2 linked regions of the Homo sapiens genome follow. The protein of the gene in region 2 interacts with the protein of the main gene of each other region in a pairwise test. Each region holds a gene or a part of one and is shown on either strand. Other genes may lie near its edges.

Region 1 (2,543 bases), on a different chromosome or scaffold from region 2:
CATATAAAGTTAAAGCTTTGAGCTACCTTTTCTTGGCCAATAAAGTCACTGACAGTTTATGTAAACATTAATTTCAACATGGCTGTTGCATTTTAATTATCAAAAATGTTTAAAATGCTTTAAGATGACACATAGAGAACATACACATACATACAAATTAGTGCATTTGTAATTTGTTAAATTTGAAATGAACTATTACCTTGAAATATAGTCTTTAAAAATTTTTAATGGTTAAAGATTAAATTGAATGAAACTGTAGTCTAATGGTAACTGATGATCTGAATCCGTCTCTCTGATAACCTCCTTTCCATTTTGAAAATGTGTCTTATTATACATGGAAGCTAGTAACTACGTGAATGCTGTTGGCAGGATGAGGGTCTGGGTACCTCAGTCTCTTGTCCTGTTTCCTTCCCCCAAATCCACCATTGTGAAGTTGCCAACCCCCTGCCGCCTTCCCCTGCCAAGTACATGTTGTCAGAGTCAGCCCTATAATGTTCATTTCCCCTCTTGTTTGTGGGATTATGGATCTCTGCAGAAATCTGCATGCCAATTAACCCATTTCTAAAGCAGAATCCATTTTGCATGTCACAATCAAGATGTACTTGGCAATCTAAGACACACTGGGAGACTGTAAGAGGAATTAATATAGAAAAGCTCTTAATTATAATAACATTTGGAAGAAATTTTTCCTTTGTTTTGTAAAGTGGCTAAGGTTGTAGGAGTGTGTGGTATTTATTACCTTTTAAATGAACTGTAAATTTGCCTTAGAAATTTGTTTAAAAGGCTAGCAAGTGAGACCCTTGAGGATGATCATATACTAATAAAGATTACCAAAAGAAACTTCTTGTCCTGTTAGGTCAGTGTTATGATTTAATGGTTTTAATTACTTAACCAATTTTAAGAATTGACAATTTTTAAAAATATTTTTTTCTACCATTCTAAAGTAATGTCTTTTGTTGTGGGTTTATGTGTAACTACAGGATTTTGGAACATAAACATTTTGAAGGATAGTCAATGGTATTTAGTCTTGGATATAAAAATAGAGAAAATTTATAGCTTTATGTTATTAAAATAATTTATCACACAGAGTGATTTGAGGTTTTCGCAGAGTAGATTTGTTTGACTCATGGTTTATTAGTCTGGATTACTTAAGAACAATATGTTGATTTTAATGTTAATTCCCACTAAATATATAATATTGATAAATACATGTGAAATTAATATTGTTTGGAAAATGTAGAGGACACAGCTGGGAATTATGAATGCTTTTTTCTTAATAGGTTTGGTGTGTGTGGCTTTGAATGGTTCTGCTGATGCATCATGGAAAGACAGCAGGGAACTGTAGCCTGCCATCAAAACTGTATCAACTCTTTTAATGAGCATGTGACTGTATTAGGTACATTTTGAAGAATATAAGTACTGATGATAAAGTCTAGTATGCATAATAGGATTTTGGAGGCATTTCAGGAATTTTCCTTTTATAGTATGCTTTTTAGGCATCTGTATGTGTAATATCATAGTATCATTTATTGCTGGGATGGATCGAAAAGCACTGCTTTTACTTTTCTGATAAGTATCAAAATGATTTTCCAGTACCAACTTGACTGGCTTTTAATTATTGTCACACACACACAAAATTCAACTCCTCAAGGTTTGGGAAAATTGTGTATTTTTTTGTATACAAGATAAAAGTGTCATAAAAAGGAATGGATGAATTGTTGATAGGAACATTAGCAGTTAATTTTTACCTGATACTGAGTTTACTGTAAAATAGGAAATGCATAGGAAGGAATACCTCCTAAATAATATGCCTTATAGAATGATGAAATCTTACCATAGTTCATACTGAAAATGTTGTTTATTTAAAAGTATTGTGGAGTGTTGAAAATAAAGATACACAATAAGTATTTTCTGAAGAGAAAATTAATGAAGGTATTTAATGATATAGGAAATAAGTGACAAGTTAAAGTCCATTTTGTTTCAATAAAGGAGTTGTGCAAACTCAAGGAGTGAGTTACATGATTGAAAAAAACCATTGGATATGAGGAGGTTGCTATGGTGTTTATATCCTTAATAGGATCTTTTCATCTAAAAAATTCCTAAGAATCTGCTCCATCTCATGTTTAAAATTAAATTTTTTTTTTTTTTTTTTTTTTTTTTTTAGAGACAGGGTCTTGCACTATCACCCAGGCTGGAGTGCATTGGTGCGATCACGATTTACTTTACCCTTGGCTATCCTGGGCTCCAGTGATCGTCCCGCCTCAGCTTCCTGAGTAGCTGGGACTACCGGTGCACGCCACCATGTCTGTTTTTGCTGTTGTTGTTGTTGTTTTGTTTTTTGTTTTTGGTAGAGACTGGGTCTCTGTTGTATAGGCTGGTCTGAAACTCTTGGCCTCAAGTGATCTTCCTGCCTTAGCCTTCCAAATGCTGGGATAACAGGCATGAGCCACCACCCCTGGCTGGCATCTCATATTTCTGTGTAGTCTATAAGACCATCTGAAAAGTTTTTGCTTCAGGTTAATTTGTGAAGTAAATGATAAAGG
Region 2 (3,654 bases):
ACCACTACTTTCAGGCTGGGCACCTGGCAAAGCATTTGGCGGTGTGGCGTGGAAGAGTGTGTGTGTGCAAAGCTGTGCACTCTTCATGAATGCAGTGAGATTCCCTCTGAGGAGGGGTGGGTACTGGGGCAGTTGCAGCCGACCAGCTTTGGGGGATCAGTTCAGCTAAGGTGAGGGCTCCCATGGGTGGAATTGCTGGAGTGGGGTTCTGAAGGCTGATGAGGAGTTTACCAGATGACCGAAGGGAGAAAGGCCCTTTGAGAAGAGGGACCGGTGTGTGTTAAGGGTCAAAGGGATAAAACAGGACTAGGATCTTGTAGGGAGTTTGTGGGAAGGAGATAGAGCCACACACATAGAGAACAGCAGGCTCTGGAAGATCGAGTCAGCTTGATTCTGCCACCCGCCTCCTGGAAAACAGGGATGGGGTAGGAAAATCAAGCATCTCCGACTTGAGCACTGCTCCTTCCCACCCTGCTGCTTCTGACCTGGGAGTCCAGTTGCTTGGGGTCATTCTCTCTTAAGCTCGGGGCCCTTATGGCCTTGGAGCACACAAAAAACAGTAGAATGTGGTGTTTGAGCTTCCAAGCCGGGCAGAACTGCTTCACCGCCCAGCGGTGTCATTGTTGCCTGTGTGACTTTAGGCCCATTGCTCCCCCTCTCTGGGCCTCAGTATCTCACTTGGAAATAAATGGAGTTTGGAATACCCACCTTCCAGGACTGTTGGAGGAGCTGGCAGAGGAGGCCAGTCAGAAGAGCGGTGGCCTGGCCCTCTCCTGCCTCTTCCCTCCAGGGGATGTCCCTCCAGGGAATGGGTCCCACTTCCATAAGGGGAGCCCCCAGTTCTGCCTTCCAAGCCCAAGAGCACCGAGGGATTGATGTGAAAGGGCTGGAGAACTGCCCTCTGCCCCACTCCCCATCCCTCCGCCCTTCCCCCGCTGTCGGCCCGCCACCCCCAGGCACTCACCTCACAGTGGACTGGTACACCAGGTCCTCTCGCTTGCGGTAGTTCTCCATGTGTGAGTAGTTGGTGGAGAACATGGCGTCGAAGGTGAAGATCTTTTGCTTGATGGTGCCACCATCCGTCACCTGCCACAGAGCACAGAGATAGCCACACGTGAGTGCTCAACCGGCCCTGGTCACCCCTTTCCCCAGGACACTGACAAGATGCAGGCAGGAAGCCCAGAAGAAGGACAGCCCCCATCCTGAGAATAAGGTAATAACCGAGGGCTTCCTGGAGGCAGCGATGTTTTAAGTTGCCTCCTGAAGGAAGAGTAGGAGCCAGCCTGGCAACGGGTGGGAGTTTTCTAGGCAAAGGGAACAGCAAAGGCCCTGCGGCAGGAAAGAGCAGTGTGCGCTCAGGGGAAGCTTGCTGCCTTCACAGCACCTGGAGAAGAAAGGAAGTGGGATGAGAAGAGGCTGCGAAGAAAAATGTGGGCCAGATCATGGAGGGTCTCCACAGCAAAGGAGCTCAGCTTCTCCTGAAGGCGGTGGTCCCCGGGGCCAGGATTAGATTAGATTTACAAGCTCCTCTGGCTATAGATTGAGGATGAATCGAAAGGGGCAAGACTAGAGGCAGGGAGCCCGGGAGGAGGCCAGGAATCCAACATCCCGGCACGGGCGATGCAGACGGGGACAGCGTGGGGCACTTGCCCTCGTCTTGGGATGGGCCAGGAGAGAGGACATGAAGTCCCCATTTCACCTAAGAATGCGGAAGTGGGAGAAGGCAGGGAGGTGGCGATGAAGCCAGCGCTGGAAGCCCAAGGCTGCCGGGCTGTCCCGCTGTTCATGGCTGATGGAAAGCGAACCCAAGCGTCCGTGCCCTCAGCTGCCGCCCGCCTGCTTCCCCACATCTGCGCTGCCTCCAGCTAATGAAAGTGTTACTCCACGAAGCAGCAAGGTATGTGTTGTCACTGTTTCAATTATTTATCTGTTTACTCGGCTGCAGTTTTTCCGCTTGTCTCAGCAACTCTATTATAGACTGGGAGCTTGCAGCCTCTCGCAGCTCAGCTGGGCTCTGCGCTAACAGCCTGCAATGGGGAGGCCTCATGCCTGGGCCTAGAGAAGTGGAATTAGCTCCCTGCGGCTCTGTGTGGTGGAGGCAGCGGGGAAAGGGGCAGGGAGGGGGCTGGCTAGGGACGGGTGACTCCAAGGGGCTGGGGTAGGGGGGATGCTGAAAGCAGCTTCCCCAGGCAAAAAGGTGAGGATTGGAGTGTGAATCTGTCCCCCTGTCACCTGCCTGGGAGTACTGGCCCTAGACACAGCTGGGCTCCTCTGGACACATATGTACCCAAGCTGACTTGGACCACATCTCTCTGACCTAGGTGGTGTTGCTACTGGTTTAGGAGAGACTCCGTGCATCTGGCCAGCACTGGTTGAGCAACCAGCTGTGTGCAGACACAGGCTACGTCTGTGCCAGTCACTTTCCATAGCCTGCAAGCTTTGTAAAGAGTAAGGTGGCCTCTGTGAGGACGGGGGATGGTTAGAATCATGAGAAGGCCTTCGCAGGCTCTGGGACCCTGAGAGGAAGCGGCAGTGAGACTTCCCAGGGCACGGCTTCTCCTTACCCCTCCGTAAGCCCACACCCCTCCTATCTCTGTCGGGACTTAGCGACATGTACACGCGTCACTTTCTTCCCCTCTGAGGGCTTGGCGCTTTCTGACCATGTGCAGAGGGGAGACAGAGGACCACTTCCTCCCACCTGGCTGCTTCTGCAGCACAGGCCCAGCTTCTGAAACGGGACCATGAGAGTGGAGGAAGATGAGGAGGACGGGGACAGGAGGATTCTCCTCTCCTCTTGGGATCCCTGCTGGCACTCACCCCAAGAAAGATGCTCACCCCAACCAACCACACCTTGACTCTGCGTCCACTGTCATCACCCAGAAGAATGTCCCTGAGTTGACTGTGTCCAGCTTGGCATGGGGTGGAGAAGAGAGTTGGCTGTACTTGGGATCAGAGCTTCCATCTCCCCACATCCCAATGTCCCAGCCTGGGGTAGAGGCCAAGACCCTCCAGGGGCTCCCCATTCTCCATGCACCCTCTTCCCATCCCCGCCTCACCCATTTGACTTTTTTACAGCCACCAAAGTACCTTTAAAGCAGGGCCTTTTCACTTGGGGGGTGATTTTGCTCACCCTAACCACCAGGGGACATACAGCAAGCTCAGGAGACATTTTTGGTTGTCACAACTGGGGAGGAGAGGTGCGGTTTGGTAGGTACCAGTGTCTAGCTGATAGAGGCTAGGAAGCTGCTGACCATTCCACTATGTCCAGGACAGCCCCTTGCCCCCCTCCCAAGAATTATCTGGCCCCCAAATGTCAACAGTGCCCAGGTGGAGAAACCCAGTTTTAAGCCCATCACATTGTGTGGCTGTACCAGGTCCCTGGGAACAGAGCCGAATAGACAAGAATGTTCCCATTTTGCAGGTAAAGAAACTGAGGCTTGGAGAGGCAAAATGATTCGGCTGAGGCCCCACACTAGGTTCCTGACAAGCGTCTGGCTTCTGGACCAGAGTTCACATCCCATCCCATCAGGCTGGAAGAGACTGCGGGTGAACTGAATGCCTCTCAACGTCCCTTTCCACCCCTGGTGGCCAGGCTCATTAGGAGAAAGGATGTCAGAATCTCAGTGGAGGTGTGAGGATTTTTCTCCCAAAGTC

The links.
Region 1: the proteins of IGSF21 (region 2) and UBE2V2 interact in a two-hybrid assay, tested with the Homo sapiens proteins (one large-scale study listed by BioGRID and IntAct).

What each region holds. Positions count from the first base shown.
Region 1 is NC_000008.11:48,062,703-48,065,245, forward strand, and holds the end of UBE2V2 (ubiquitin-conjugating enzyme E2 variant 2), read left to right. Parts: 3' UTR 1-2,006; downstream 2,007-2,543. UniProt on the Homo sapiens protein: Has no ubiquitin ligase activity on its own. The UBE2V2/UBE2N heterodimer catalyzes the synthesis of non-canonical poly-ubiquitin chains that are linked through 'Lys-63'. This type of poly-ubiquitination does not lead to protein degradation by the proteasome.
Region 2 is NC_000001.11:18,289,298-18,292,951, reverse strand, and holds part of IGSF21 (immunoglobulin superfamily member 21 precursor), read right to left. Parts: exon of another isoform or gene 3,422-3,654; intron 1,898-3,421; exon of another isoform or gene 1,087-1,897; coding exon 965-1,086; exon of another isoform or gene 1-964. UniProt on the Homo sapiens protein: Involved in synaptic inhibition in the brain. Selectively regulates inhibitory presynaptic differentiation through interacting with presynaptic NRXN2.